Homo sapiens: one gene and its partners. The protein of the gene in region 1 interacts with the protein of each later gene in a biochemical or structural test. Each region holds a gene or a part of one and is shown in the gene's direction. Other genes may lie near its edges.

Region 1 (4,100 bases):
GAACCAGATCTCTGGCCCATCAGGCTTTCTAAATTCTTCAAAAGAGCCACAACTTCCCCAGCTTCTCCAGCTCCCCTGTCCTCTTCAATCCCTTGAGATATAGCCAACTAACGACGCTACTGGAAGCCCCAGAGCAGAAAAGAAGCACATCCTAAGATTCAGGGAAAGACTAACTGTGAAAAGGAAGGCTGTCCTATAACAAAGCAGCATCAAGTCCCAAGTAAGGACAGTGAGAGAAAAGGGGGAGAAGGATTGGAGCAAAAGAGAACTGGCAATAAGTAGGGGAAGGAAGAATTTCATTTTGCATTGGGAGAGAGGTTCTAACACACTGAAGGCAACCCTATTTCTACTGTTTCTCTCTTGCCAGGGTATTAGGAAGGACAGGAAAAGTAGGAGGAGGATCTGGGGCATTGCCCTAGGAAATGAAAGAATTGTGTATAGAATGGAAGGGGGATCATCAAGGACATGTATCTCAAATTTTCTTTGAGATGCAGGTTAGTTGACCTTGCTGCAGTTCTCCTTCCCATTAATTCATTGGGATGGAAGCCAAAAATAAAAGAGGTGCCTCTGAGGATTAGGGTTGAGCACTCAAGGGAAAGATGGAGTAGAGGGCAAATAGCAAAAGTTGTTGCACTCCTGAAATTCTATTAACATTTCCGCAGAAGATGAGTAGGGAGATGCTGCCTTCCCTTTTGAGATAGTGTAGAAAAACACTAGATAGTGTGAGAGGTTCCTTTCTGTCCACTGAAACAAGGCTAAGGATACTACCAACTACTATCACCATGACCATTGTACTGACAACAATTGAATGCAGTCTCCCTGCAGGGCAGATTATGCCAGGCACTTTACATTTGTTGATCCCATTTGACATTCACACCAAAGCTCTGAGTTCCATTTTACAGCTGAAGAAATTGAAGCTTAGAGAAATTAAGAAGCTTGTTTAAGTTTACACAGCTAGTAAGAGTTTTAAAAATCTCTGTGCAGAAGTGTTGGCTGGGTGCTCTCCCCACCACTACCCTTGTAAACTTCCAGGAAGATTGGTTGAAAGTCTGAATAAAAGCTGTCCTTTCCTACCAATTTCCTCCCCCTCCTCACTCTCACAAGAAAACCAAAAGTTTCTCTTCAGAGTTGTTGACTCATAGTACAGTAAAGGGTGGAGGTGATATGGCATTCTGAAAGTAGGGAGGGACTAAGTCAGTCATCATACTAAACAAAAATCCCAGTACCCTTTCCTTATTTAGCTACCAGAATGATGACAGACAGACTCAAACCCTGTCAAGACAGGACCCTGGAGGATCCTCCTATGGGGAAACTGCATAATCTGAAAAAAAGGCTGACAGATACAAATAGTTGAGGATCCTTCAACACAAAAGCTGCGTGTCTGCCCTATTACTCACCTGACGATGAAGCCCACAATGCAACAAATCCCTTCCACTCACAGCATTTGGTCAACCTGTCAGAGCCTCATTCTTAATTATGAAAAGTAGTCAATGAACACAATACATTTGAGGGAAAGGCCGTAACATGAAAGGCACCAACAAATAAATGTGAGAGTAGATAGAGACCTTTTGAGTATAAAAGATCCTCCAAAATAAGAGATTAAACCAAGATAGAGGAAAACACAGTAGCTGGGAAACAAGGAATCCAACGCAGGAGAAAGTGAAGAGAATTCCCAGGATGTTGGTGTGTAGCAGGCTTAGAAAGCAAGTCATTCATGTTGGAGCAGGACTCTTAAAGGACTCTAGGAGAGATGTCTCCCAGAAAAAGAAGAAATTAATTGATTCATACACATTGAGAGGGATTTAGATTTCTCTTGCAGAGATTGAGATAAACTAGTCGTAAATACATAGAAAAATAAGCAAGTAAAAACGCAATACAGTTTTTAAGTGCTAGAGGAAAAGAAACTTTTGTATTAGAGAGGAAATATAACCACAGTACACTACATGGCTCAGCTGTGAATAATATTTACATAGAGGATAATGTGAATATAATAGTCTCCCATTATCTGTGGTTTTGCTTTCTGCAGTTCAGTTACAGCCAGCCAGTCTGAAAATATTAAATGGAAAATTCCAGAAATAATTCTTAAGTTTTAAAACATGTGCTGTTTTGAGTAGCATGTTGAAATCTCGCACTATCACCCTCCACCCATGTTCTGGGCAGGGCAAAGTGGGATGGTGTGAGATTTCTCCAGTGGATCCACAATGTATATGCTACCCACCCATGAGTCACTTAGTCATCATCCAGTTGCTCAGATCAACTGTTGTGGTATAACAGTGCTTGTGTTAAAGTCACTCTTATTTTACTTACTAATGTCCCCAAAGCATAAGAGTAGTGATGCTGGCAAATAAGATACACCAAAGAGAAGCTGTAAAGTGCTTCCTCTAACAGAAAATGTGAAAGTTCTTGACTTAATAAGGAAAGAAAAAAAACACATGCTGAAGTTGCTAAGATCTACAGTAAGAACAAATCCATCTGTAAAATTGTGAAGAAGGCAAAAGAAATTTGTGCTAGTTTTGCTGTTGCACCACAAGCTGCAAAAATTATTTATTACACCCCACGGTGTGTGATAAACACTTAGTTAAGATGAAAAGGTATTAAATTTGTGGGTGGAAGACATGAACAGAAATGTGTTCCAATTGACAGCAATCGGGTTTGGTACTATTTGGGTTTGGTGCTATTCGTATTCAGGGTCTTGGAATGCAACTCCCACAGATAAGGGGGTGCTGCTGGAGTGAAATACTGTGATATAACCTTTTTTTCAGGAAATGAAGGGAGAAGATGTGTACGTGTGTGGGAGAGGTATAAGAGACCTAGGTTGCCATATTCTATCACAGAAAATGCATAATAACTAAATCTGGAAAATGATGAATAGCTGTACAACCATATTATTTAGCAATAGGAGGTAAATACAGGTAGAAGCAGAAGAAAGAATGGGCAGGGGTTACCTCTATGGAGAAGCTGGGGTGGGAGGATAGGGTGGGGACTTATTTTACGAACTGTGTAATTGCCTAACTTGTGAATATGTATTTCTGAAGTAAAATAAAAATTAAGTTAAAATTAAATTTTAAAATTCAAACTAATTCTGAGTTGTTTTTTAAAACAAAAACAAAAAAAGACAAGAAAGCCCATCAGAAATGGAAACTGAACATTGACAGAAGAAAGGAAAGCAGGAAAGGACCAGAGTTGTATTTCAGTTCTTGAGAGAAGCCCATCTAGTCCTGCCATGGGAGGCAAGTCCTTTCTTGGGGTGAGGAAAGTCACTTTCTGGGGTTAGAGAGATTTTGATATGTTACTTGGGATATTTTTAGTTGCAAGTAACAGAAAACCCTACCCCAAGTGGCTTACATAATAAAGGGATTTGATTATCTCATATAACTGAAATATACCGAGGGAAGTTGGACTTCAGGCCTTGTTCAACCAGGACATCTGTGGGCTTTCCTCCCCAGATGTTGGCTCTGCCACATGGGTGAATCCTCTCATGGAAACAAGCTGACTGCAAGCAGCCTGAGACTACACACTTCCTTATTTGTTTCTAAAGCAAACTAATGAAGAATGGATTACTCTGAATGAGGATGATGACAGTACACACCTAAAGTAGTTGAGGTGAAACCCGCTGAAATCTCATCTGGGAAAGGGGTGAAATGGGGCTTGCAGAGGCCACATATGTACTGCAAATGAGGTGGAGAGAGAGCTGCCAACCAGCTAAGCATCCATGCTGGGTGTGGCATGTAACTGAGCAGGCAGCCGGGCAGCTTTGGAGGGTGGGGGGAAATGCAGGCTCTAGGAAGAAGGGCAAAAGTTAAATTTTGAATTTCGGTTGTGAAGTCGTAGGGATTTTCAATTGTCAATGAGAAACCTTAACAACTTTCCAAGGGCAAAATGGCCCAAATAAAGCTGGGAGTAACAGAGCAACCAAGGTCCTTAGGATGAGCATAAGAGAGGGGTTGTGAATTATTAATGTCTATGGTGTGTGTATGTGAGAGACAGACAGAGACAGAGATGTAATGGCTTACTTTTCCTTTTTCCAGCCAGAGTGAAGCCTCCTATTTGTTGAAATATGTCCTTGGAGAGGAAACAAAATGGAACTCTTTACTTACCAT
Region 2 (3,535 bases), on another chromosome or scaffold:
CCCTAATTCCTTTTGGGCCATAGATCCGCTTTTAGGATCTGATTAAAGATGTGGACTTTCACCGCAGGAAGATACCCATGGGCACACCATTCAAAATGTATCAGATTTCAACGGTTTTACAAACTCCCCCGGGATTAAGTCAAATGGGTGGATATTACAGCTGTTTTCATCAGATATGGTTATTTGTTGACAACCATCAGGACAACAATGTTTATAGATGGAAGGATAACTTCCTGGTTTTTTTCCACATTGAATGTGGCTAGTTACATATCTCAATTTAAAATAAATTGTGGAAAGCCAAAAAAGTATGGTCAAGCTAACCTGGGGTGGCTTTTACCTGATGCCTACAAGCACAGAAAAATAGTTTTTAATTAAATATCCACAGTCAAAATGATACCTTATGTATTTTATTCCAACAACATTTGGTTTATAAAGGAATACAAACAGGCACAAAACATGGTTCAGAAGATTTATTAAGTAAACTTGCTAAAATATGGACAGATACACTTAGCAGTCAAACAGTTGAATATTCATTGCTACCTCATTAAAGTTTTTGTATCTGTATTACCAGGTCCAAACATAAAAACCACCTCTGTTCAAAAAATAAATGTTCAGAGAGCTGTATGTTCTTTGTTCTGGTATGTACATTTTAAAAAAACACCTCTTTCCAGTCTTGCTAACCAAGAATATTAGTCATATAAAAGAACTTAGAATTTTTTTCCCCAAGTACAAGCTATCTTTTGCTCCAAAACAGTTCTGAAGGTTTTATTTATATTTTATCTTATCCCGAGGGACCAACAGCAGGCATACCTTTGCCAGGCCTTCTTGCAGAAAGACACAGAGCCGTAAAGGCAAAAATAAAATTGCAATAAAGTATATGGTATTGGGGGCAGGGAGAACCAGAAACCCTCAAAGAGAACCAATTTGTAGCACGTTCTTTTTTAAGGCTCTACCCCTGTAGAAGTAAGAAACTAGCCTGCCTTTTTAGCCATATGAGAGTTTCCTCCAGAGCCATCTTCCAAAGTGGCAGACTTGGCCAAGTTGCCCAATGCCAAATAAGTGAGTTGGAAGTTCGTTTGCTTCAAACACACTGCACTTAGAAACCAGACTTGAAATAATCGAAGCCCCACAGAAAAGCTTCATGAAACGAAGTGTTACTTTCCTAGAGAATAAGAAAGTCACAAGATTGAGGAGTCTGTTCTAAAGTTCTTTGCTCCTTGATGTCGAAGTTAACACAAACACAATCTTAGCTTAACGAAACTAAGTAATTTTTGTTTATGATTATAGAACTGCAGGATTCACAAGTAGTATTAGAGACATTCCACACTGCACACTCCAGTCATATCTCTTAACAAAATGACATAAATTGACAATGTTCACTAACAGTATTTGCTGTTACACTGAAAAGGCACATCAATGTTGTCATGCTTAGAAAAATACACAACACTGCACACTGGATGATATAGTTAGCACATACATTTTTAGATGTTCCATTTTTCTTTTCTGCCTGATCACTATTATTTTTACTTCTTAATATATGATTCAAGACATAATTTCATTCTTCATTTTCATTTAAAATTTGTCTTCACATTGATGTGAACAACTTTCAGGAGTCTAAAAAATAGTAGTTTCAGACAACCTAAAATAAATATATTCCTAGAAAACACTTGGATGACCTGCAAACAGATCAAAGATATAGTCAGATATTAAAGTCAGAGCAGCTGTTTTCAGCTTCTTGTTTCCTTTTCTAAAACTTGAAGTAGATGGCGATTAACCTTATCATGTTTAAACAACCTTGACAGTATAAGGTACATGTACCCTCAATTTTCTTCATCCAGTAAGACAAGTATGCATCTTAAAGGGAAAGCTTTTAGTTCATAACAATATGTTTGGTTGCTTTTCTCTGCTTTCGGAACATTTACTGTTTTTCCTTTATTGGCTTTAGTGTTTGCTGCCAACCAGATAACATGTTAACATATAATTTACAACTCTCTCTAGGTAGGTGATTACATAGAAAACTAATGCCAGCTAAGATTTATGGATTCAAAAGATAACTGACACAAGTTCTTGTCCTCTACACTTGAGAGAACTAGCTGTTTAACGCATAAATATATTGATAGTAACTACAAGTTAAATAACATTCAGTGTCACTATATAACATGCTGTCTTACTTGATTCTGTTTTTCAGACTTCATTCTAGTTTCTCTTTGTTGGAAGAGTCTCAGAGATAATGTGTGCTTTAATTTTAAACACTCATTACCAATATGATTTTTGCCCAAATGTTTGTTAATGTAAGTTAAAAAATTATATTTGGTTTGGATTCAAATATTTATAGATTTACACAATACCTATTTCATCAAAATATATTGTATGATATTTAATAAAATTAAATACATAAAATAAAGTTTCAACACTATTTATACAAACCCCTAGAAAAGCTTCTTTTTCTTTATAAGGCTGTTGGCAATCGACCATAACCATGGAAAGGAAATAATAACCTTTGGTTTTACTCTTTCACCAGGGATGGATGGTATGACTAAGACAGTTCTGGATGAGTTGTGTCACTGGAAACACTGTTTTATACAATTAAACACTTTGATGATTTTTGAGGATCTCATCTCAGTCACTTTCAGATTCTTCATCTTCACCTATCGGATATGACTGGATATTATTCTGAGTGTACATTTTTGTTTTAATAGGGCAGTTGTGATCCATGAGAATAGCCTAAAAGAGAGCAAAGTGCAAGTATATTAACTTCTTGTTTCATAAAGATAAGATGGTTTTAACCTACTGTTTTTAAGGATTATTAGTTTGAAAACTATGTAGTATTACTTGCTATTAACCAGTCATTTGGAGCAATCGCCAGACGCCTGACCTAAAAGACCTGTAGTTCTACACTCTAAAAATTCCAGGCAATTGGAGACAGAAGTGGTCTCTGCAGTATTTTCATTATACCTGTCAGGGGCCATAAGTCCACTCTGGGAACTTATACTCTATGAAGCAAGGGACAGGCAGGTTAGGTTTGTTATACTTAGAATCTTGGAATTGGGGTATGGGGATCCTGGAGGTCACCCAGTCCAACTTCTGTTTACAGACGTCATTGTAGCAACACACCTTGAAAGGATGTGCTCTCTCCTTAATGAGAGAAGCCCTCACATGTGAGAAATGTACCTAAGTCTGGACTACAACCCGTTTCCATTGTTTGCATTCATGAATCTGGTTCTGGTATCTTTTTCTTTCTTTCTTTCTTTCTTTTTTTTTTTTTTTTTTTTGAGATGAAGTCTTGCTTCGTCACCCAGGTTGGAGTGCGGTGTTGTGATCTTGACTCACTGCAACCTCTACCTCCTGGGTTCAAGCAACCCTCCCACCTCAGCCTCCCAAGTAGCTGATATTACAGGTGTGCACCACCACTCGCAGCTACTTTTTTTGTATTTCTAGTAGAGATGGGGTTTCACCATGTTGGCCAGGCTGGTCTCAAACTCCTGACTTCAAGTGATCCCCCCTCCTCAGCCTCCCAAAGTGCTGTGACTATAGA
Region 3 (4,322 bases), on another chromosome or scaffold:
ATATATATATATATATACAGCTATGTGTATAATATGTAAAATTCTCCCAAAATGTATGAATATAAAACTGAATGTATTCATTCATGTAATTATAACTAGCATTCTAAAATTTTTAATTACTCCCATTTCTTTGACATTCTGAAACTTTTTTTAGATTGTTTTAAAACGCTCTGGTTCCACCTTGAAGCTGATAATCTTTCTGAAAAATATATGAGAAACTCAGAAAGTAGTCATTATTATAATAAATTTAATTTTCTTAGGGAAAAAGGGCAGGGTTCTGGATGGAAACCCCTTTGGAAATTCTTATTTAAACTTTTGAATGAATCTTTAATATGATTCAGGCTGAGATTATGATACCTGCCCTTGTCTTATTTCAAGAGGTTTGCTGTGAGAATTCATGTAATAACATCTGTAATGTATTTGGAATTTTTGGGAGAAATTCATTCTTTTAAATAATGGGATTATTGTATATAGTACAAATGAATACTCACAAAATTTAAGAATACATTTGACTAATAATTGAGCATCTTGTCAGTTTTTATGCAAGCATATATTGTATACCTGAGGAAGATGACAGTTCTATAATTTTTTTAAGGTAAGGTTATTTTTAAATTGCATTTTTGTTCTAACGTTTTGCAATTTATATTCTTTTTAAAATATTTCCCATAATTCATCATGCTAGCTTCTGTGTTCTTGGAATAGTTTTTGAAAAATGCAGAGATTCGAACATGAGTCCTTAATATACTAAACAGTGAAAGAATGATGATATCTCATTTCTAAAGTAAGCATGGTTCACACCACTTTGGCAATACACTGCAGTACTTTTTAAAAAATATTCTCTAGTGATAAAAGTAAAGACAGGGTACTGGCCAAGATCCTAATTCTGACTTCTGACTGTGTGATCTTCGATGAAATTTATATTTCCCTTTATCATTACTATTCTACTTGTTAAGTAAGGCTAAGTTAATATTTGTCTTCGCCTTAAATTCTGATTTGTAATTTGTAACTCTGATGTGGTAGCTGTGATATGGTGAACTGAAAAATCCTTATTAGGCTACTTTATCTGTTCTCTTTTAGTTATTTTAAAGTGTACCTGTTTCTGAAGTAATGTAGTGAATGGTGAATACTTTTCAGGAATTCTTCCAGTTTTAAAATAGCCCCAAAGATACAGTTTCAGCTGGTGGAAGGTCTGTTCTGCTCTCTTAGTCCTAATCAGAAAGTCCCTTTTATCTTATAATCCCATACTAAATCCAAACCCTTAGCAAATCCTTGCTGCCAACCAGACCACTCACAAATCAAACAAAATGTAAGCAAGCAATCCAGTACTCGGTTACACCAGAAGACTCTGATCTTTGCCCCCGAAAACTGTCCTACTTTATCCTTATACCTGAAATCACTGCATACCTGAAATCACTGCAGCCCTACTGTTTTACCCATACCATTAATTTAAAAAGGCATCTATTTCTTTATAGAAAGAAACATTCACAGTGAGGTCTTAGTTTGTGAACCTCAAAATCCAGATATTAATCCACTTTAGTTATTACTTTGTAATTGCTTCTCAGTCATTGGCTGATAATGCAATGGTGTGATAAATTTGACTTATCTCCACATACAAAAGTCGATCAGAAGGGATAGTTCTCTTCCTTTTTTTCCCCTCCTACTGGCTCTTACTGTTTTCTAATCTCCAGTGTAAATGGAATGAACACATCTATAGTTAAGGTAAATGCCACCAATCAGAAGATTGAGTGATTTACTGCTTGTAAAGCAACTGTCTTTGAATCTTATGAAATAGGTGGTGTTGCTACCACAGAAGCCAAAAAGGTCTTAAAATTGGAAATAGATGTCTTTATTGTACTTCAGCCAACAGCAAGCCAGGGGAAGGAACATACATAAATATGACAGGTCATATATGAAATTTGGCTCTCCTCCTATCAAAGTAGCCTAGGAGCTTGGAGGAAGCCTAATTAACTAAAACAGGAAAAAAGCATACTCATCTGATGTAAAAACTCATCAGCTGTAAATTACCAACATTAAACCAGAAGTCATTACCAGTTAAAATGTGTGGTTTTCATCTTATTCTTAAATAGGAGAGGTGGACAGTAGTGTAAGTAACATTGCTTTAAAGACATAAAGCTTGTCCTGGTAAACATGGTCTAAATGAGAAATGCCTCCATCTTTTCAGGTAGAACCAGATTTCAGGCATAGCTCAGCTACATCTGTATTTGAAATACAATAAAAATATTTCTTATGTCTCTGTATTCTCTTTTAAAAAGAACTGCTGACTGGCTCCTGTCTCTTCAGTAACACTGATTTTTTTTTAAAGAAGTGATATGTTGGACTCTGTTGTAGAAGAATGAGCACTAGTATTCAGCAACAAGTGCAATTTCTCCATGTTATGTTGAGCTCTGTTGGAGCCTATGGTGAGTATTTGATGTGAAAACCTTGCTGTGGGAATTTTTTATTCTTCCTTTTCCCCCCACGCCAGTTCGTTTTGGTAAGTCTTTTATTTGAACACAAGACGCATGCTTTTTTAAACCTCTAGTTTTTGAAGTAACTGTAGAAGAGAATCTTTAAAAAAAAAAATGGAGGGCAGAATGCTTGTTAGCAATCTGAAAATCAAAGCTGAACAAGCTGCTTAAAGTTTCTGATTAAGAAGTTTAAAAAGAAAAATTAATTGCTACTGCTTTCCAGGTAATTGTATTATTAGTTTCTGTATAAAAGAAACATTATTGCTGTTGTATAAATAAAATTTTCCTGTGGTACAATTAAGTATTGATTTTTCAGAAACTGTCCCTATAAATCTTTTCACATATTTCCATGTGCTGTCCAAAACAAAAATTATTGAAATGTCTAATCTGTGAGATTATATACTCCTGGTAAAATATTTTTGTATATATAAAGAAATATTTACTATTGGAAAAAAGTGTTTCATTTATAGGTAGAACTAAGGTTTAGAGATAATAATGGAGGATATCTGATTAGCGTTGATAATTTTTTTTAACTGTTTGCATTTTTTAACTTTTAGGTTTGGGGGCACATGTGAAGGTTTTGTTACATAGGTAAACACGTGTCACAGGGGTTTATTGTACATATTATTTCATCATCCAGATACTGAACCTGGTACCCAATAGTTATCTCTTCTGCTCCTCCCCCTCCTCCCACCCCCCACTCCAGTAGACCCCAGTGTCTGTTGTTTCCTTCTTTGTGTTTATAAGATACTATCATTTAGCTCCCACTTAGAAGTGAGAACATGCAGTATTTGGTTTTCTGTTCCTGTGTTAATTTGTTAAGGATAATGGCCTCCATCTCCATCCATATTCCTGCAAAAGACATGATCTCATTCTTTTTTATGGCTGCATGGTATTCCATGGTGTATGTATATATCTCATATTTTCTTTATCCAATCTGTCATTGATGGGCATTTAGGTTGATTTGTGTCTGCTATTGTGAATAGTGCTGCAGTGAACATTTGCATGCATGTCTTTATGGTAGGAAGATTTATATTCCTCTGGGTATATAACCAGTAATGGGATTGCTGGGTCAAATGGTCGTTCTGCTTTTAGCTCTTTGAGGAATCTCCGTACTGCTTTCCACAATAGTTGAACTAATATACACTCCCACCAACAAGGTATGAGTGTTCCCATTTCTCTACAACCATGCCAGCATCTGATAGTTTTTGACTTTTTAATAATAGCCATTCTGACTGGTGTGAGATGGTATCTCATTGTGGTTTTGATTTGTATTCCTCTAATGATCAGCGATATTGAGCTATTCTACATGTGGTTGTTGGCCACACACACGTCTTCTTTTGAGAAGTATCTGTTCATGTCCTTTGCCCACTTTTTAAGGCGGCGGGGGTGGGGGGGGTTTCTCTTGTAAATTTAAGGTCCTTATAGATGCTAGATATTAGACTTTTGTCAGATGCATAGTTTGCAAATATTTTTTCCCATTCTGTAGGCTGTTTACTCTGTTTATAGTTTCTTTTGCTGTGGAGAAGCTCTTAAGTTTAATTAGATCTCACTTGTCAATGTTTGCTTTTGTTGCCATTGCTTTTGGTGTGTCTTTGTCATGAAATCTTTACCTGTTCCTGTGTCCCAGATGGTATTGCCAAGGTTGTCTTCCAGGGTTTTTATAGTTTTGGGTTTTACATATAAGTCTTTAATCCATCCTGAGTTGATTTTTGTATATGGTGTAAGGAAGCGGTCCAGCTTCAGTCTTCTGCAGGTAATTTCTTTTAAGTGATAACAGTCTTTGTAAAAAGCCCCTAAAGTCATTTAGTGTTTCCCACCTAAATAAATAAATTGATCACTTGCCTCTACAAC
Region 4 (4,701 bases), on another chromosome or scaffold:
GCTTTTTTATTTTAGTAATTTTTTTTGGAATTTTCTAAGTAGACAGTCGTGCTCAAAACTTTTCTTTCCTTCTAGTCTGTATGCCTTTTATTTCTTTTCCTTAACTTGCTGTATTGTCTTGGTTAGGACTTCCACTGAGATGTCGAATAGGAGAGATGAGAAGTAGCATCTTTATCTTGTTCACTTTTTTTTTTTAAGATAGGGTCTCACTCTATCCCCAGGCTAAAGTGTAGTGGCGCAGCACTGCTCACGGCAGCCTCGACTTTCTGGGCTCAGTTGATTCTCCCATCTCAGCCTCTTGAGTAGCTGGGACCTACTGCAAGTGCCACTATGCCCAGCTAATTTTTTGTATTTTTAGTAGAGACAGGGCTTCACCATGTTGCCCAGGCTGGTCTCAAATTCCTGGGCTCAAGCGATCTGCCCACCTCAGCCTCCCAAAGTGCTGGGATTACAGGCATGAGTCACAGTGCCTGGCTTCTTGCTCACTTTCTTAAAGGAAAAGTATTCAGTCTTTCACTTTTAAAAAATGATATTAGCTGTAGGTCATTTTGTGCATTCTGTTAAGGAGGTTAAGGAGGTTTTCTTCTGTTCCTAGGTTACTGAGGGTTTGTTTTTTAAATCATGAATAGATGTTGAATTTTATCATATGCCTTTTCTGCATGTATTGAGATGATTGTGTGAACTTTTTTCTTTAATCTGTTAATATGGTGAATTACACTGATTTTTCAAATGTTGAACCATATTTGCATGTTTCTGGGACTAACTCTGGGGTTATTTTAAACAAAAATCATTTTGGATTTTTAAAAACTAATATACATTAACATTTATTCTTAAAAATGAAGGAGCAATGTCACATGCCTGTAGCCCCAGCCAATTGGGAGGCTGAGGTGGGAGGGTCGCTTGAGCCCAGGAGTTTGAGTCCAGCTGAGCAACATAACAAGATCTCTTTTCTTAAAAAAAAAAGGAAACCAAATATAAGATTTTGTGAACTAAAATACTTAATGAAGTCAGTAGAGTCAAGGTATTCATTAACAGTTACCTACCTACATTTTACATTTTAGTAGGACTTAAATTTTCTTGATTATGATATAACATTATAAAAATTAAAACATTTGGCTTTCTGTCTCATATAATTTTATAGTTTCTTCTTCAGTTAATAGTCTCAAACACCCTCAAAGACGTTGAAATTTTGAGGCCTCCAGGGTTCTTGGCATTTTGCTTCTTTAAGGCAGGGGTCAACAACTTTCGGTAAGTATTTTAGCTTCGTGGGCCATATTGTCTCTGTTGCAAGTACTCAGTTCTGTTGTTAGAGTGGCAGAGGTAGCCAAACAAATGAGCATGACTTTTCCAATAAAACTTTACTTATAAAAATAAGGTGTGCCTGATTTGACCTCTGGACTTAGTTTACATACCAACATTTTTATTTTATTTTTTTGAGATAGAGATGGGGTCTCACTGTGTTGCTCAGGCTGGTCTCGAACTCCATGACCCAAGTGATCCTCCCAAGTTGGCCTCCTAAAGTGCTGGGATTACAGGCATGAGCCACCACGCCTGGCCTACATACCAATTTTTTTTTTTGAGACCAAGTCTCACTCTGTCCCCCAGGCTGGAGTGCAATGGCATGATCTCAGCTCACTGCAACCTCTGCCTCCCGGGTTCAAGTTATTTTCCCTCCTCAGCCTCCCGAGTAGCTGGGATTACAGGCACCCGCCATCATGCCTGGCTAATTTTTGTATTTTTGTGGAGATGGGGCTTCACCATATTGGCCAGGCTGGTCTTGAACTCCTGACCTCAGGTGATTTGCACGTCTCGGCCTCCCAAAGTGCTGGGATTACAGGCGTGGGCCACCATGCTTGGCCTCATACCAATGTTTTAAGGCAAAAAATCAGCAGGAGAAATGACAGTAATTGTAGTAATGTAGTAAAAGGAAGCTTGGGGTATTTATTTCATGCTGTAATTCTAGGCCAAGCCTCACTTTTCTCACCTATGACATGTAGCCACCTTGAAAGATGATTGAAAAATTCAAGCTGAGATATGGAAAGCACCTAGCAAAATATCTGACACATAGCAGATACTTAATAAATATTCACTTATTCACTTTTTGTTTCAAGACTGCACAGTGCTTTGTCACAAACCAACAGATGTGAAATAATTAAGGAGAGTCAGGTTTTTACAGTTTGTAGTATATCTAATAAGTTCAAATATTAGAAATTTTAATTATGTGTCTATAGTTATCTTTTGAGTTATGCTTTTTTGATATAAATCATAATTGGCTTCACAATTTGAGAAACTTCACACAAAAAGTTGAGGATTTTGTGTGAAAACATTATATTTTGAGAGTTTTACATTGTCACAGAAAAGGTTTGAGAATGTAACTTAAAATACATTATTTTGTTTTGATGTAAGAAGTAGGCAATCTGTATTTTGCTTGTGTGTTTTAGAAGTGCCTTTAAGACTGCATTCGTTTAACGTGATTGCTTCCTATGAATGTAGTGAGCTAGGTGCTCTGCTAGGACTTGGTTGTACTTAGAGTATCCATATTTAGATACTCATTTTTGTGTTATGTTTGAAATGTAAGTAACGCTTCGGAAAGTCTTTTTTTCTGAGTTTCTATCAAGATAAAGCTGTTCTATTTTGTTTTTTATGAAGCTGGTTGAGATTCACTAGAGCGATTTTATGGCACACAAATGGGTCACATCCTACAACTTGAAAACCATTGATGTAGATAGACGAAAGTAACCCTTCTCCAAGAGGCTGTGTTCATAATTTCATTTAAAATTCAGCCACCCACTCTTCCTTCCTCCAGGAACGTTCCATACCCTCCTACTGGCAATAAGTTTTAGTTCTTAAAATTTTAGTAAAGTATGCATTAACAATTTATTCTTTTTTGTAACTCATCTGTAAATTATCGAGAGCTGTGACTACTGTTTGATGTTCATTTATGCTCAGAAGTACTAGACACTCAAATATTTACTGACCAAAAAAATCTGGAAGAAAATAAGTTATGTGTTAAACAGTGGTTCTTCTGTCTTAGTATTGGAAATCACATTGCCTCACATTGAAAACTGTATAAACTCCAGTTTATGTGTACTGGACATGCAGATTTAACTGTCTAATATTAAACAAAAAATTCTAGTTAAACAGATTGTTTTGTGATTCTGATAGTCATCTGGGCCCTTCCTCTGAAACACACACACTGTTCATACAATATGCAGGGATTCATGGAAATAAAGTCATGAACCCCAGATACAGGTCTCTGATCCAGGTGATTCATCGACTGTATAAATGACCTGCAAATGTTTTTCACAATAATGATTTGCATAAGGGTAATCAGTACATACTTAGAGTTAACGAAAATAAATTTCATAGTTTTTGTAGGCATCCTAAAGGAATCTTATCCTTCTGTTTTTTATACCTTATCCTTTTATACTTAAAATTTATAGCAAGATTGATAGTTCATTTGACCAAATCACAATACTTTCTGCTTTCCCCTCTTATCCAGAATTGTATCCCTCGCTGTGTCTCTTAATGTGTTATGCTGTATGCTGTATCCTTTGTATGTATTTCTTAAATATTAACAACTACATTTCAAGTTCTTTGTCAGCATTCTTCTTTTTACAAATGAGGAAATTGAGGCTCAGAGAGATTAAATATTTTTTCCATAGTCCTATTATAAGTGATAGAAAGGAGTTGAATTAATTTTATTTGATCCCAAAGCCCTTGGCTTTTCTGCTTTGTCTGTAATATAGCCTGCCTTAAGACTTATTTTAACATTGTCTTTTTGGTAAGATTAGAAACTTTTTGATGAAAGCCATTTTCCACTTTACCTAGTGTTTAAAAATGTACGTGAGGCTGGCGCAGTGGCTCATGCCTGAAATCCCAGTATTTTGGAGGCCGAGGCAGGAGGACCGCTTGAGCCCAGGAGTTTGAGACCAACCTGGGCAACACAGTGGGACCCTGTCTCTACAAAAAATACGAAAATTAGCTGGACTTGGTGGTGTGTGCCTGTGGTCCCAGCTACTCAGGAGGCTAAAGTGAGAGGATTTCTTGAGTGTGGGAGGTTGAGGCTGCAGTGAACCATGATGGCACCATTGCACTTCAGCCTGGTCAACAGCAACAGAACGAGAACCTGTCTCAAAAAAAAAGTAGTTGAATTAAAGTGAAGAACTTTGAGCCTGTAAATTGTAAATAAGCTCCTTAAGGGTAGGATAGTGGGTTGTATCTTTTTGTCTTAGTATGTCAGCCCTTAATATGGCTGTGATACAATAAGAAATATATATTTGGTCTTTGTCCCTGACAGCTGACCTAGAGCTTCTAAATCCCTTGGAATTTTCTTAAGCATAGAGAGTCTTTTGTTTGAATGAGGGTGATAAGAGCATCTTTTGTTTCAGTGAGTCAACTCTTGGCAGGCCCCTATAATAGCTTCAGGTTAGGGGCTGGTTGCCAGAAAGACCAAGGCATGGGGCCCCACCTTCAACCTCTGGGAAGGCAAAGAGGGGCTAGAGATAGCCAGTCACCAATGGCCAGTAATTTAATCATGCCCATCTAATGAAACTCCTAAATGACAGTGTTTGGAGAGATTCTGGGTTGGCGAATATTTCAAGGTGCTGGGAGGCTGGTTTGACTGGAGAAGGCATGGAAGCTCCACACCACCCGCCTAAACCTTGCTCTTTGCATCTCTTCCATTTGGCTATTCCTGAG
Region 5 (4,701 bases), on another chromosome or scaffold:
ATTATTGTTGAAGGACTTTTAAAAAAAGTATAGATCTCTCATACTCGATTTAATCAGTTTGAGCATAGATGCCTAACTTTAAAAAAAAAGTATAATAAAGTGGGATAGTAATACAATTTACGTGAGATGGTAATAAAAACTTTTCAGCTTTTTTTTTTAACTTGTATGACTTCGTTAGGTTGTTATTAAACTGTGATTTGTATTTTTAAAATAGTTTTGTCTGTTAAACATAATTGAGGTGTACAGTACAGTATCCATTGTTATCTGTTTAGTATTTATTTATGACTTACAAACTCTAAAAGCGGGATCAGTGATCATGGTTTTTAGTAAGTTGTCTTTAAGGAGCAAAGTAAGAGACTAGCAGAAAATTGCAAGGAGGTTTGTTATTGAGAGTACTTCTGCCCCCCGCTTGAGAGTTAATATGGCCACTTTTAAACAAGAAAAGTTTTCCAGAAACGTGGAAATCTTGTTTGGTGTATGTTTAGGGGCAAATGTTTTAAAGTTTTGCCTAAATTCTTAGTTAGAATGCAAAATTGATCAACTCCCTAGGAATGGTTATTGTGGCTAAATATGAATTGTTGCTCCTATGTAAAATTTAGTTATTGGTAGAAGTTTACTAACTGAGTTGAATTTTGTTGTTTTCCTGGGTTATTGCATGTTATGAAGTTTTTTATGTACTATAATCCAGATTTGTTAAATTTGCCAGTTTACTAGAATAAGCTGTGAAGCCTTGAAGTTTGGCTTAGCATTCTGAAAATCCTTTTTATTGTTTGCCAGGAAAGCACTGTAGGAAGGAGGTGTTATCTCTTCATTTAATATTTAATGAGTAGTATAGATGATGAGATAGGATATAATGTAGAAATACCGTAGAATCTTCTTTATTGATATGAAAGTACCATTGTCTAGGAACAGCATAATTTCTTATCTTTTGCATGAATGGGGAAAAAGAGGAGGGGAAATTTATTAGACTCTTTCATTTCATTAGAGATATCTTCCCTCACATTCATTCTTCATTTCATTATTCTTAAGTAGAAACTTTGGAAGAGAGATGCAAGTATTTGAATTAATTAGTAAGAACAAAATGAAAATTACATCGTATAGACTATCATGAGGAAAATATCAATTTGGGTTGGTTATTGTGTTTGTATTTTTTAACAAGGAGGTTATATAGAGTAGTAGAAAGAAAAAAGGACCCAGAGGGGAAGAGTGTTAATATTTATTGTCTGTTAAGTGTCAGATCCTGTATAAGGGGCTTTTCATGTTGTCCCACTCACCAAGTATGCTTTATGAGGTAGGTATTATTAATCCCCTGTCCTCTCCCTGCCAAATAGAAGCTAAGGGAAATGAAATAACTTGTCTAGGCTCATACTTCTAGTAAGTGGAATTCTCTAAAACTTATTCTTTAGATCGGTTCTGTCCAATTAAACTTTCTGCAATGATGGAAATATTCTTTTTTCCTTCAACTTTATTGAAGTATAATTGACAAATATCATAGAAATATTTTTTGCACTGTTAGTTATGGTAGCCATTAATCATGTGTGGCTATGGAGCACTTAAAATGTGACGAGTGTGTCTGAGAAACTCAATTTAAAATTGTATTTAATTTAAATCAATTTAAATTTATAGCCAGATGTGGCTAGTAGCTATAGTATTGGAGAGCATAGCTTTAGGTCTGACTGCTTAGAAAATCTGAGTTGTAGTATTTAATCTTCCACTGGTTTATGCATGGCATTGGGCAAGTTGTTTAGTTCTGGGCTTCAGTCTAATCTGGTGTGAAAATGAAGGGGTCGCCACTAAGAGATTATCTCCAAGGTTCCTTCTTGCCTGAAGTTCTGTGACTGTTATTAAAACATACAGTAGCATTCAATATTCACAAGCATTATGTCTGAAAGGATCCCCTCCCCAATATGCTCACCCATTACCTAAAGATTTCTGTTTAGTCAGTTTCTCTTTTTGAGAAGCGTATGTATAAAGCACACATAAAGGATAGTGGATTATTCCCCACCTCCCCAACTGTTCGGCAAAAACATTGTGTAACTCAAGGCAGTACTTTATGATGGAACAAAGTTTGAATCTTTAAAGGCCATATTTTAACATGCCACCTTCCCGTTTAAAAATATATAGGAGTTCCCCGGTGCTTATCAAATTAATCCCAAATTTACCTGCTTGACCTTGAAGACTTTCTACCAACTTCATCTCATTAACCTTGTTTCTCATTCGTGCTTAAAAAGAAAATAGTCTTGTTTTTTCCTTTGTCCTCGTTTCCATAATTTAAACATCTCTGTCTCCAATTCATGTGCCTCCTCTTTAAACCTTTTTCAAAATTCACCTGTTTCTGGAAGAATGCTGCTTAATCCACTCACAAGGATCAGTTAATGAATCCTGGTAATAAGTACCCTAAGGTTAATATATGCTTGTTTAGATATAGTTTAATATCTTCTTAAGCTTTTTTTTTTTCTTAAGTTTTTATGTTACCTACTCTGTTTCCTTAATTTTCTTAGGTTAAAAAAATTAAAATAGGAATAGCGTCTTTTGTATTGTCTTATGAATTTAGTTCATTTTTCAACAATGCTACTTTTAAAAGTTGCTAATTTTTAAAAAGGATAAATACTGTAACAACGTTTACCCTTGATCACCACCATAATAGCTATTTTTTGTTTCTTTCCAGGTAATTGTTCATATTTAAAAAATAAAGTTGTGTGGTAGAGAGAATTTTGAGAGGAATATAATGGGAACATTGTATGGTGGAGGCTGTGCAATGTAGGGGAAAGATCACAGACTTTGGAGTCAAATCTGGTGTGGAATCTAGCGTCAAAAACCTCGGGCAAACTGTCTGATTTCTGAGTCAGGAGTCAAATCTGGTGTGGAATCTAGCGTCAAAAGCCTTGGGCAAAGTGTCTCATTTCTGAGTCAGGTGGTCTTGAATTGTGGGGATTAAGATACTATATGTAAGGCATCTAGCGCTGTGCTTTAAATACAAGAGATGATCAGTCAGTGATAGTTGGTATTATTTTTTCATTTTTCTATTCCCATCTTCATGAATATTATTTATTTATTTTAGCTACCCAAAGCCACCAAGGTCAATGAATATAATTTAAGTGATTAGTTAAACATTCAGGTGATATACCATAACTGATTTAGACATTTACATTTTGTTAAGCGGTTTTTTGTTTATTTCCTCAGTTTAAAACCCTAGGACTGGGATAATGGTCAAGTGTCATGAATATTTCTGTGCCAGATCTCTCTCTTACAGAAGTACCTACAGTGGTTGTTCTTGTTTTGGGAAGAAAAAAATGCTAATTTTATAATTGTATTTCATTGTTTTAATTAATGTAATTTGAAAATTTATTTGGTGATGATGTAATGAACATTCCTTTATATGTTAAGCAAACATTTGAAATGCCCATTGTAGTGGGAGCAGTGGTATAAAGGTAAATAAGACATGATTCTTGTCCTTGAGCTCAAATTCTAGGGTGGTAACACATGTCAACAAACAATTAACAATTCATAGTGACAGTGTAATAAGATCTGGGGAAAAGAAGTGGCATTTGAATATGGTCTTGGAGGATCATTTGGAATTGATCTGGGTAGAGAGAACAGCATATAGAAAAAGTCAAAGTATGAAAGAATGTGTGGTGTGTTTGGAGAAATGTAAGTTGTCTTGTTGGATATGTCTGTCTCTGTCTGGGTGGGTGTGGTTGTCTGTTCCTGTGTGTGAATCTGTGTGTGTGTGTGTGTGTGCGCGCGCGCATGTGCGTTGATTGCAGTGGGAAATGAAGTCTTGTGAGGGTCCTTGTGTTTGGGCAATGAGTGGGATCATTTTAAGACCTTTAAAATAGAGCTTCCCAACTGGTGTGCCATGAATGGTTTACCAGTGTTTCGGAGAGCAAGATACCCTTGTTTAATGGGACCTGGGCATATCAGATCCCCCTCCCCACCCTGCCCCAGGATGGTTTCTTTTGGCTTTGAATAGCATTTGTGGCTTATCCCAACGTGCTAAGAAATTATTATTTTCTTTGTTGCCAAGTTGGGAAAAGGATTGGGAAAACCACTGTTTTAGAGACTGTAAGTATTAGAAAGTTTATGGTTCCTACTCACCCTTGGCATCCACTATGGAATCAGAAATAAATATCAAATCCTAAAGTAAGCTTAAGGTAAACTTAAGAATTCTTAAGTCACCTTCCTCTTTCTCTCTCTTTTTCCCTCCCTTTACCCGCTGCCTCCCCCATTTCACTGGTGTATGCGCATGTGCGCGCGTGTGTGTGTGTGTGTGTGTGTGTGTGTGTGTGTCTGTGTGTGTGTGTGTGTGTGTGTGTGAAATATCTCTTTGGTGCCCTTGCGTTACTGGTGCCCTAAACATGCATTTAGTCTGCCTCTTGGGAAATCAGCATTAACATTCAGGAACAATTTAGAGGTATTTAAATAAGGGATGATAAGATTAGATGCAGGTTTTGAAAGGTAACTCCTGACTTCTAGATAATGATGCAAAGTTACAAGGATAATGCAAGGATGAGGTTAGAAATGGAGCAGAGAGACCAGATGCTGTTGCAGTGGTCCAGGGGAGGGATGATAGGAACCAGAAATAGGGCAATATAGATATGAGATTAGAACTGAAAACTGAGTAGTTTCACTAGACCTGAGAGTCCATTTGGACATGGGGGGAAAGAGTTGAAGATGATGCTAGGATTTCTTCTTTGGCAG
Region 6 (4,701 bases), on another chromosome or scaffold:
CGTGCCCACCCAGAGGCCAGCCTGGCACTGTGGCCATAGAGATATATTCCATGGGTCCCCTTGTTAAGGAATTGAAGATGCAGTTGTAGAGATAAGGCAAACTTGCAAAACAATTTTGGAGCAATTAGGCACTAAGCAGTGTGGTATTAATTACAAAAGCAGGAGGCGTTCTGGGAGGGGAGGGGAAGGAAGGCTGTGTGAGGAGTATTGCTGGACGTTAGAGGTGGTGGTGAGAGGGTTTAGGGAAGGATGAGCAGGAGGCCCGACATGCTGGGAGATGGAGAAACACTGGTCCGGGCGACGGCTGATGTATTGGGGCTGGGGGATTTTTTAGGGGGAACCTTTGTTCTGAGATGAGCCAGGAATGAGCTTGTTTCAAGAGGGCTGGTCAGTGTCAGTCCTGGCTCTGTTCCGCGACACCTCTGGTGGGCTGTGGTCTCAGCAGGACCCACGTGCTCAAGGGCAAGCCTTCCCGAGCTTCCCCATCGTGTTGCCCCCAGTCCAGGAAAATGAAGGGTGTGGGAGGTACAGAGGCATGGCTCCCAAACCAGCGGCAACACCTGAGAACTTGTTGGAAATGCAACTTCCCAGGCTCCAGCCTACACCCGCTGAATTGGGCATGGGGCTTGTGGGTCACGAGCCCAGAGCTGGGTGTGGGGAGACTCACTTGGGTCGGTCCCACCTCTGCCTGACGACTTGGACCAGCCCCCCTTCCTCTCCCTGGGCCTCAGGTCAGACTAGACGCTCTGAGTTCCCTTCTCTGACCTTGATGACTCTGCTCATTCCTTCGGCAAATATTTGTCGAGCAGCTGCTTCATGTCAGACACTCATCTGGGCTCTGGGGATGCAATCGTGGAAAAACAGAGTGACACCTCTGACCCTATGGAGCTGACGTTCTAGTCTACAAATGAGGCTGTGGTCCCACGGGTGCACAAGTCTCAGGGTCCCACAGCTGCCTTTTGAGAATCACTGTGTAGCTGGGTGCTGTGACATGTGCCTGGAGCCCCAGCTACTCCGGAGGCTGGGGCGGGAGGATTGCTTGAGCCCAGGAGTCCAGACCAGTTTGGGCAACATAGTGAAACCCCCATCTCTTTAAAAAAAATCGCTTATACTTGAGAGTCTTAAAGGCTCTAAGAGGTCCCATGAGAAAGAAACCCACTTAATTTTTCTTTATATCCTAAACTTGTTGAACAGCAGAATTTCTCCTGAATTTCTACCCCTGACCCCCTGCCCTGCCCTGCCCCACCCCCAGGAACATCCTTGCGTTCCCCAGCACACATTTCGAGAGGTGTTGGCTACAGACAAGCTCATGATGGGCAGGTGAAGGGGGAGCAGCTTTCCTGGATTTGGAGATAAAAGGTCTCTTCTGTGAAGGCAAGGGTCGCTAACCCCTAACCGCCTGGGAGGAAAGGAAGGAGAGAAAGACATTGTCTCTCCCAGTCGGGGAGCTGGTCTCCTTTTCTGGGCTGGGCAGTCTGGTGGGAGTGTGTGAGAGGAATGCTGTGGGCTGCAGAGGCAGGGGTGCTGTGTCCTTGTGGCCTCCTGACATGGCCAAGGCTGCAGAGAGCTGGAGGCTCAGGATGCCCTTATAGTGCCTCTGGAAATTACAGGTTCCCCCTGCTGGTAGGCACATGCCTTGGTGAGCAGAGGCCAAGTGAAAAAAGCCCCTCTCCCTCTGGTTGGGAATGAGGACTTGCCTCATGAAGGGATCCCGGGCCGGTGCCCTAGGCAGGGCCCATGGTGGTCTGTCTGGAGATGTGATGTGGCTCGTGAATTCCTGCGGAAACTATCTCTAGGTCCTTCAGGTGACCGCACAGCCCCGGGCAGTTGCCCTGGAGCCCAGGTGTGGAGTCCCAGCCCTGCCTCTGATGCTGCAGGTGGCTTGGACCAGCTACTTTGCCCTTCTGACCTGCAGTCTCCTTACCTATAGAACGTTTTACTGGAGAACCCTGAGAGCAGAGGGATGCGAGGCCAACTGCTGGTAGCAGCCTGGTGGGGTGAGGGTCTAGGGTTGTTTTCTTAAGATCCAGAAGTTTTTGCTTTAGCTTAAGGATGTGTGCAATTTTCCATGTGGCTTCATAATTCATCCATGACTTTGAATTTTAAAATGGAGAGAAGTTGGCTTCCCAGGAAATGGTGCCCCTGGCCCTGGGCATCGGCCCACCTGGCTGTCTCCAAGGCTCTCCTTCCCAGTGGCTGGTGCGGGCTCCGGGAGCTCAGCTGAGTCCCATTGGGGTGGCAACGGAAAGGGAGCAGGGGAGTGGGGAGTACGGAGATGCAGGCTGGAAACTGGCCTCCAGGAACAACTGTGAGGTTGAAGGCGAGATTTCCATGTTGGGAGCAAATTTAAGAGCCCCAGATGGACACGGCACACCTGGAGACAGGCACTGCTGCCTGAGTGTGGCCCAGGGAGGGCTCGGCTCCCCAAAGCTCCACGGGGCAGGCCCAGACCTCCCAGCAGAGTAGGGACAGGCTGGTTAGCCCAGACTCCCGCCTCTGAGGAGAGGAACCAGCTCTCCTTGGGAAGAGGGCCTCTGCCCTGGCCGGCCCTGACTCCCAGGGGACTTCGACCCCTTGCTTCATCCCTTTATGTTTCTATCTCCTCAGTGCAAAAGGGCAGCGTGCTTCCTCTCTGCTGGTTCCGTGGGATCGGAGCCAGGCCCCAGTGTGCAATGTCTTTGCACACAGATAATAGCGTGCGTGACAGAGGACTCTGTGCTTAGCTGTCACCTGCTGCCTTCCTGCTGCCCGGTCCCCGGCAGAACCCGCATGCCTCCCTCCCTCTCTGGACCCTGGCAGTCTCTGCGCCCTGGCTCCGAGGGAAGGGGCAGGGGGCCCGCTGGTCGGCGAGGGCTGGGAGCCCCCGACACCTTGGCTCCAAGGGAAGGGGCAGGGGTCCGCTGGTCGGCGAGGGCCGGGGGCCCCCTGGTGTCGGGCCTGGGAACAGCCGGGCTAGGCCCTCCTGGGTGTGTTGGCCCAAGGCTCTGGCCCTGACTCCTCCCCGGCTGCCTCCTCCCAACAGGCCGGCCTCGGCCGCGCTGGCGACTCGGCGGTGCTGGTGCTGCCGCCTTCCCCGGGCCCTCGTTCCTCCAGGCCCAGGTACCAGCAGGCCCCGGAGGGTCGGGTTGGGGTCTTGGAAGGCTGGGAGGGGCAGGAGGGAGACGGGCTTCCCCGAGAGGGATGGGGTCCCCCAAGCCCAGTTGGCTCCTCCACCTCCCAGATTCCTCCCCCTCCCCCACGCTCTTCTCCTGCCCCCCACCCCCTTGCTTGCCTAAGCTCCGGCACGGGACCCTCATTCCTGGCTGCCTCCCACCCTGCAGCATGGACTCGGAAGGGGGAAGCCTCCTCCTGGACGAGGACTCGGAAGTCTTCAAGATGCTGCAGGAAAATCGCGAGGGACGGGCGGCCCCCCGACAGTCCAGCTCCTTTCGGCTCTTGCAGGAAGCCCTGGAGGCTGAGGAGAGAGGTGAGGGTCTGGGGGGCTGGGGAGGGGAAGGAGGTTCCCTTCCGTACCCCGGGCCCTGACTGGATGGGTCAGTGAACCAGTGTTCTTAAGTGCCTGTGAGGTGCTCACCCCAGGACTAGGCACGGAGCCGAGCAGAGCGCGAAGCCCCAGCCCCTGCCCATAAGGAGCTGACGGTCCGGGAGGGTCCGGGAGGGTCACCAGCGTGCTCCCACAGAGTAGTGGGCAGTAGCCAGCTGGGATGGGAAAGTGTCATTCGAGTGATAAAAGCGGTGGCAGGGCCTGGGGCTGGGCCTCCAGGGAGGGCTTCTTGGAGGAAGAGGGATTTGACTTGGCCTCTTGGCCTTAGAAAAAACATCAAGACTTAAACAGCATTAAGAGGGTGGCAGGAAGCACTGTGGAAGGTGGAGGCTGGCGGCCAGAGGGCTTTGGGGTGTGGGAGTGAGAGAATGGGGGCCTGATAGCATGAAAGGGCGCCAGTGGAGGCCAAGCCCCTGCAGTGAGGGCCCTCGGGAAGGGAATCAGGCTGAGGAGTGCCCTAACCCAGGAAAGCCATTAAATACTGATGCCAGGCGAGCAAGACATACGGAGGCTTGCCAGAGTTCCGTTATTCATGTGACAGACACTGACTGTGCCCATCTGAGGGACCAGATGTGTGCAGAGTTTGGGGATAGGTGGCCATGACCCCACTCCTGCCCTTGGGGAGCTCCGTTCATTGGGGCAGATGGGCCTGGCCAGCTCCCATGGAAGTGAGCGCTGCTGTGGGAGTTACTACTCCCACAGCCCCTGTCCTTAAGGTGCTCAGCACCAATGCCCTCTAGAACAGTGGGGAGAAGGGGAGGGAGATGACAGGACAGGTAGGAGAGTGGCCAGAGAGGCTTCATAATTCATCTATGACTTTGAATTTTAAAATGGAGAGAAGCTGGTTTCCCAGGAAATGGTGCCCCTGGCCCTGGGCACTGGCCCGCCTGGCTGTCTCCAAGGCTCTCCTTCCCAGTGGCTGGTGTGGGCTCCTGGACCTCAGTTGAGTCCCATTGGGGTGGCAATGGAAAGGGAGCAGGGGAGTGGGGAGTACAGAGATGCAGGCTGGAAACTGGCCTCCAGGAACAACTGTGAGGTTGAAGGTGAGATTTCCATTTTGGGAGCAAATGTAAGAGGCCATATGGACAGGGCACACCTGGAGATTGGCAGGTGGCTGGTTCTAACGCTGATGTTTAGCTCCAAGGGGCATTTGCAGA
Region 7 (4,701 bases), on another chromosome or scaffold:
CGGGTTTCACCCTGTTGGTCAGGCTGGTCTCGAACTCCTGACTTTGGGTGATCTGCCCGCCTCAGCCCCCCAAAGTGCTGGGATTACAGGCGTGAGCCACTGTGTCCAGCTGGCATTTGGGTTATTTCTATGTACTGCTTTATACCTGTCTGTATATACATCTTTAAGGAATGCATCATATTGTTTTAAAAGTTTTCTATCATTATAGAAGTGCATATTTATGCTTTTGCAACTTGATCAACACACTGTGAGCTTCATCCACATTGATAGTATATGTCTTATTTGTTATTTTTGCTGTTGTATAATACATATGTATAATTATGCCACTATACATTTTTCAGTGGGCATTTACATGGTTTCCAAGTTTTTGCTGTTACTCTCAGTGGGTTCAATGAAGATTCACCAACATGTCTTCTTGAAATCTCTCATCCTGGCCTCGACCTTTGCACATGCCATCGTTCTCTTGGAATACCCTTTCGCCTCATTTTTTGCCCAATTTCGATTCATTCTTCAGGTCTCCACTTACATGAAAACTCTTCAGGGAAGCTTTCTTTTTCAAAAGCTGTGTCACTGTGTTCCTGGGGCACTGGGTACTCTTCCTTTGGGCTCCCATTGCACTCTCTCCTTACCTCTGTAGCCTTATCACACCATATTTCAATTACAGTTGACATTTCTCCTTACCTCACTAGATTTCACATTCTTTGAGGCTGATGCATGCCCCAATATGCTTTAGAAGAATTTGTGGATTGCATGATGAATTGAATTGTGTGAACTTCCTAAATATGATGATGATGATGATGATGATGATGACTATGGTGATGGTGATGGTGATAATAATAGCTAAAAATACTGAGGACTTACTCTGTACCAAGTACTATGTAACTATTTTACAAGTATTAGCTCATATGGTACATATTTGCATGCATGAAGAATGTGATAGTGAAATAATTCTTAATTAGCATCATACTTCGCTTGAGTAATTAAATAAGAGCGATTTTTTTTCTCATTTGCTTCTCTGTGCATATTGTGTTTCAGTGTGTGATGAGCATAAGGAATTCAAGGATGTCAAACTCTTCTACCGCTTTAGAAAGGATGACGGCACCTTCCCATTGGATAATGAAGTGAAGGCCTTTATGAGAGGACAGAGGCTATATGAAAAGTATGTTCCGCATGAAATCCCCCCTGTAATCTTGACTTATAGAAAGAAGCAGAACTGTGCCAGTCTCATTATGTTGATTTCAGCGTGGCTTTTCTATGTGGGCTGGTTACATAACTGTTCTTTTCCATATGAGAAAACTATCAAGCATTTGCTGTCTCTTTGCCAGAAAATAAGTCAATTTCATAAGGTTCTTAATAAAGAATTTACTTAAATCTTATTTTCTGTATTTAAGTTGATTCTACAAAGCTCCAGAATTTTTGTTTACCATCAAATGATGTGGATGCCCCTTTCCTCTCTTATTTTTATTTTTTATTTTTTGGCACTGAGTCTCACTCTTGCCCAGGCTGGAGTGCAGTGGCATGATCTCGGCTCACTGCAACCTCCGTCTTCTGGGTTCAAGTGATTCTCGTGCCTCAGCCTCCTGAGTAGCTGGGACTACAGGCATGAGCCACCACACCTGGCTAATTTATGTATTTGTAGTAGAGACAGGGTTTCACCATGTTGGCCAGGCTTTTCTCAAACTCCTGACCTCAGGTGATCTACCAACTTCGGCCTCCCAAAGTGCTGTCATTGCAGGTGTGAGCCACCGTGCTTGGCCCCCTTTTTTCTTTTAAATACTGTTGTTTTGTAAATTGGAGTTTCAGGCTTGTAAGTGACTGGAGAAGCAGCATCGAGAGCAGGGGAATTGGTCAGGCCAGGAGATGAGTAGTGAGAGAACTTCAGATAGCTGGATGTCTATGAGGAACAAGTTTCAGCCCTTTCAAGAGATAAGTATAGTGTAGCACAGGAGTTTTTGGTTGGTGGGTCTCGAATCTTCTGAGTGGCCATCTCTGGGTTGATCTGCTACTTCTGTGGCCTCTTTACCATTCTGCCTTCCTCATTTAGTTTTCCAGGGCAACCATTAGAAAAAGGGGTGCAGAAGCAATGGCACGTGCTTTGTAACCCTGGCTGCCTTACAAGACTTGAGGGAATTGAAAAATACGTATTTATCGGCCAGGCACGGTGGCTTATGCCTGTAATCCTAGCACTTTGGGAGGCCGAGGTGGGTGGATCACTTGAGGTCAGGGGTTGGAAACCAGCCTGGCCAACATGGTGAAAGCCCGTCTCCACTAAAAATACAAAAATTAGCCCACCATGGTGGTGAGTGCCTGTCATCCCAGCTACTTGGTAGGCTGGGTACGAGAATCGCTTGAAACCAGGAGGCAGAGGCTGCAGTGAGCCGGGATCACGTTACTGCACTCCAACCTGGGTGACAGAGTGAGACATCATCTCAAAACTAAAAAAAAACAAAACATATTTGTCACATAAAAGAGCCTGTTGTACAGTGGTTGGGGGTAAGGGTCTGGGTGGGTGTCTGAGTGGTCAGATTAATTGGCATGATGGTTAAAAGCCAGACAGAGTTTGAAGTGTAGCCCTGTCACCTTACCTTTGTAAAGCTCAGTGTCCTCATTAGTGACATGACAGCAGCAATAGAACCTACCTCCTAGTGCTGTTGTGGGAGTTAAACGATAGCTGTGTCAAGTGCTTAAGTATTTAGCTCAGGGTCTCTGGTGTGTAGTAAGACCTCACAGATGATAGCCATTCCAAATACGAGCACAGTACTGACGGCCACCCTCGACTGTGTCCTTCCTGTGTTATGCGCTCTGTCCCAGTTCTTGTCTCCGTTTCTTGAGGTGGAATGATCACCATTTGATGTCCTAATTTGTACTCAGTCTACTATCACTTGCTTTCTATACTGAAATGGAGAAACTCTCTCATCTTTCTGACTCACATGAATTTGAATGGAAGGGATCCATCAGAACCTCCATTTGTTTACTTGAACATGTGCATTTGTTTTGTTGCTACTTTCTTTTAATTTCTTAGTTCCTTTTGTAAAATTCTAGCAGGTGTTAGGTATTTCAATTACAATGATGTTCCTTTCAAACAATGATTCTATGTTGGCCAAAACATGCATGTCATCTCCAAGGATGAAGGCCAGTGGATTCTGTAAACGCTTTTCCTTTTTTTTTAATTAAAAAAGATTATTATTATTATTATTATTATTATTATTATTATTTTATAAAGACAGGAGCTTGCTCTGTCTCCCAGGCTGGAGTGCAGTGGCATTATCATAGCTCACTGTAACCTTCAATTTCTGGGCTCAAGTGATCCTCCTGCCTCAGCCTCCCAAGTAGCTGGGAGTACAGACTTATGCTACCATGTCCAGCTATTTTTTTTTTAACTTTTTGTAGAGACAGGATCTCATTATGTTGTTCAGGCTGATATCAAACTCTGGTCCTCAAGTGATCCTCTTGCCTTGGCCTCTCAAAGCACTGGGACTACAGCCATGAGCTACTGCACCTATAACACTCTTCTCTAGCTACAGCTTATCTCTTGGGATCTGCATAACCACACTGTGGGGCAGGGATCAGCTATAATTGAAAATGTCTGGCAGAGAACTGTTATTGCTTAATGGGATAGTTATGATGGCAAGACAGTAAGAAGAGTTAAAGTTGCTCACATCTTCTAGAAAGCAGACTTACTCCAGCCTCATGTTCTGTTGGATCTCCCTTCCATCCTATGGGCCAGTCACACAGCACTGTGTATCTCTGAGCATCTTCTTTCCCTTCAGGAGATGCATTAATGCATTAATTATTCAACAAATATAGATTGAGCCCTTTCCACATGCTAGGCACAGCTAAAGACACCAGAAATGCCTGTAGCAAAGCCCCTGCCTTCATGAGCTTGCACTTCAGTTGAAGAGGCAGACATTAAAGGCACAGACACATGAAGATGTGACAGAGTATAATACAGGTGTCGTCGGTGCAAGAAAGAAAAATAGACTTACTGAGGGTGGTGGGGTACTTTAAATAGGGGCATCGGGGAAGACGTTTTTGAAGAGACAACATTTGAATAAAGGAAGCCTTGCAGATATCTGGTGGAAGAACATCCCAGGCAAAGGGAACGGTAAGGATAAAGGCTTTGAGATGGGAATGTGCTGGACATATTTAAGGGCAGTAATGAGACCAGAGTGTCCAGAGGGCAGAAGTAAAGAGGAGAGTAGCAGGAGATGAGACAGGGCCAGTTCATAATAAGGCCCTTAAAACCACAGTAAGAACTGGTGATTTTAAATGTAATGGGAGGCCGTTGGAGAGGAGGGAGTGGGGAAGTGGCAATCTGATATACTTCTGCATGTGCTGTTCCCTCTGCCTAGAGGACTCATGCCGCTCTCACCCCTTTCCCTAAATCACTGACTCCTGTGGCTTCCAGTTAATTGTGAAGGTGGCTCAAGTAATATGTGGTGGCTCATGCCTGTAATCCCAGCACCTTGGGAGGCTGAGGTGGGCAGATCACCAGAGGGCAGGAGTTCGAGACCAGTCTGGCCAACATGGCGAAACCCTATCTCTACTAAAAATATAAAAATTAGCTGGGCGTGGTGGCTGGCACCTGTAATCCCAGCTACTTGGGAGGCTGAGAGGCAGGAGAATCGCTTGAACCTGGGAAGTTCAAGCCCCCTTTCTTTGAGACAGAGCAAGACACACACACACACACACACACACACA

The links.
Region 2: the proteins of CYSLTR2 (region 1) and PDZD8 interact in a test that uses a peptide from one of them, tested with the Homo sapiens proteins (one large-scale study listed by IntAct).
Region 3: the proteins of CYSLTR2 (region 1) and PALS2 interact in a test that uses a peptide from one of them, tested with the Homo sapiens proteins (one large-scale study listed by IntAct).
Region 4: the proteins of CYSLTR2 (region 1) and PALS1 interact in a test that uses a peptide from one of them, tested with the Homo sapiens proteins (one large-scale study listed by IntAct).
Region 5: the proteins of CYSLTR2 (region 1) and PTPN4 interact in a test that uses a peptide from one of them, tested with the Homo sapiens proteins (one large-scale study listed by IntAct).
Region 6: the proteins of CYSLTR2 (region 1) and PDLIM2 interact in a test that uses a peptide from one of them, tested with the Homo sapiens proteins (one large-scale study listed by IntAct).
Region 7: the proteins of CYSLTR2 (region 1) and DEPTOR interact in a test that uses a peptide from one of them, tested with the Homo sapiens proteins (one large-scale study listed by IntAct).

What each region holds. Positions count from the first base shown.
Region 1 is NC_000013.11:48,708,151-48,712,250, forward strand, and holds the end of CYSLTR2 (cysteinyl leukotriene receptor 2), read left to right. Parts: 3' UTR 1-3,076; downstream 3,077-4,100. UniProt on the Homo sapiens protein: Receptor for cysteinyl leukotrienes. The response is mediated via a G-protein that activates a phosphatidylinositol-calcium second messenger system.
Region 2 is NC_000010.11:117,276,351-117,279,885, reverse strand, and holds the end of PDZD8 (PDZ domain-containing protein 8), read left to right. Parts: 3' UTR 1-2,612; downstream 2,613-3,535. Other genes in the region: SLC18A2 (synaptic vesicular amine transporter), read right to left, coding at 2,620-2,724. UniProt on the Homo sapiens protein: Molecular tethering protein that connects endoplasmic reticulum and mitochondria membranes. PDZD8-dependent endoplasmic reticulum-mitochondria membrane tethering is essential for endoplasmic reticulum-mitochondria Ca(2+) transfer.
Region 3 is NC_000007.14:24,691,429-24,695,750, forward strand, and holds the end of PALS2 (protein PALS2), read left to right. Parts: 3' UTR 1-2,765; downstream 2,766-4,322.
Region 4 is NC_000014.9:67,247,403-67,252,103, forward strand, and holds part of PALS1 (protein PALS1), read left to right. Parts: intron 1-4,701. UniProt on the Homo sapiens protein: Plays a role in tight junction biogenesis and in the establishment of cell polarity in epithelial cells.
Region 5 is NC_000002.12:119,762,194-119,766,894, forward strand, and holds part of PTPN4 (tyrosine-protein phosphatase non-receptor type 4), read left to right. Parts: intron 1-4,701. UniProt on the Homo sapiens protein: Phosphatase that plays a role in immunity, learning, synaptic plasticity or cell homeostasis. Regulates neuronal cell homeostasis by protecting neurons against apoptosis.
Region 6 is NC_000008.11:22,586,276-22,590,976, forward strand, and holds part of PDLIM2 (PDZ and LIM domain protein 2), read left to right. Parts: intron 1-3,022; coding exon 3,023-3,099; intron 3,100-3,320; coding exon 3,321-3,466; intron 3,467-4,701. UniProt on the Homo sapiens protein: Probable adapter protein located at the actin cytoskeleton that promotes cell attachment. Necessary for the migratory capacity of epithelial cells. Overexpression enhances cell adhesion to collagen and fibronectin and suppresses anchorage independent growth.
Region 7 is NC_000008.11:119,928,780-119,933,480, forward strand, and holds part of DEPTOR (DEP domain-containing mTOR-interacting protein), read left to right. Parts: intron 1-1,035; coding exon 1,036-1,159; intron 1,160-4,701. UniProt on the Homo sapiens protein: Negative regulator of the mTORC1 and mTORC2 complexes: inhibits the protein kinase activity of MTOR, thereby inactivating both complexes. DEPTOR inhibits mTORC1 and mTORC2 to induce autophagy.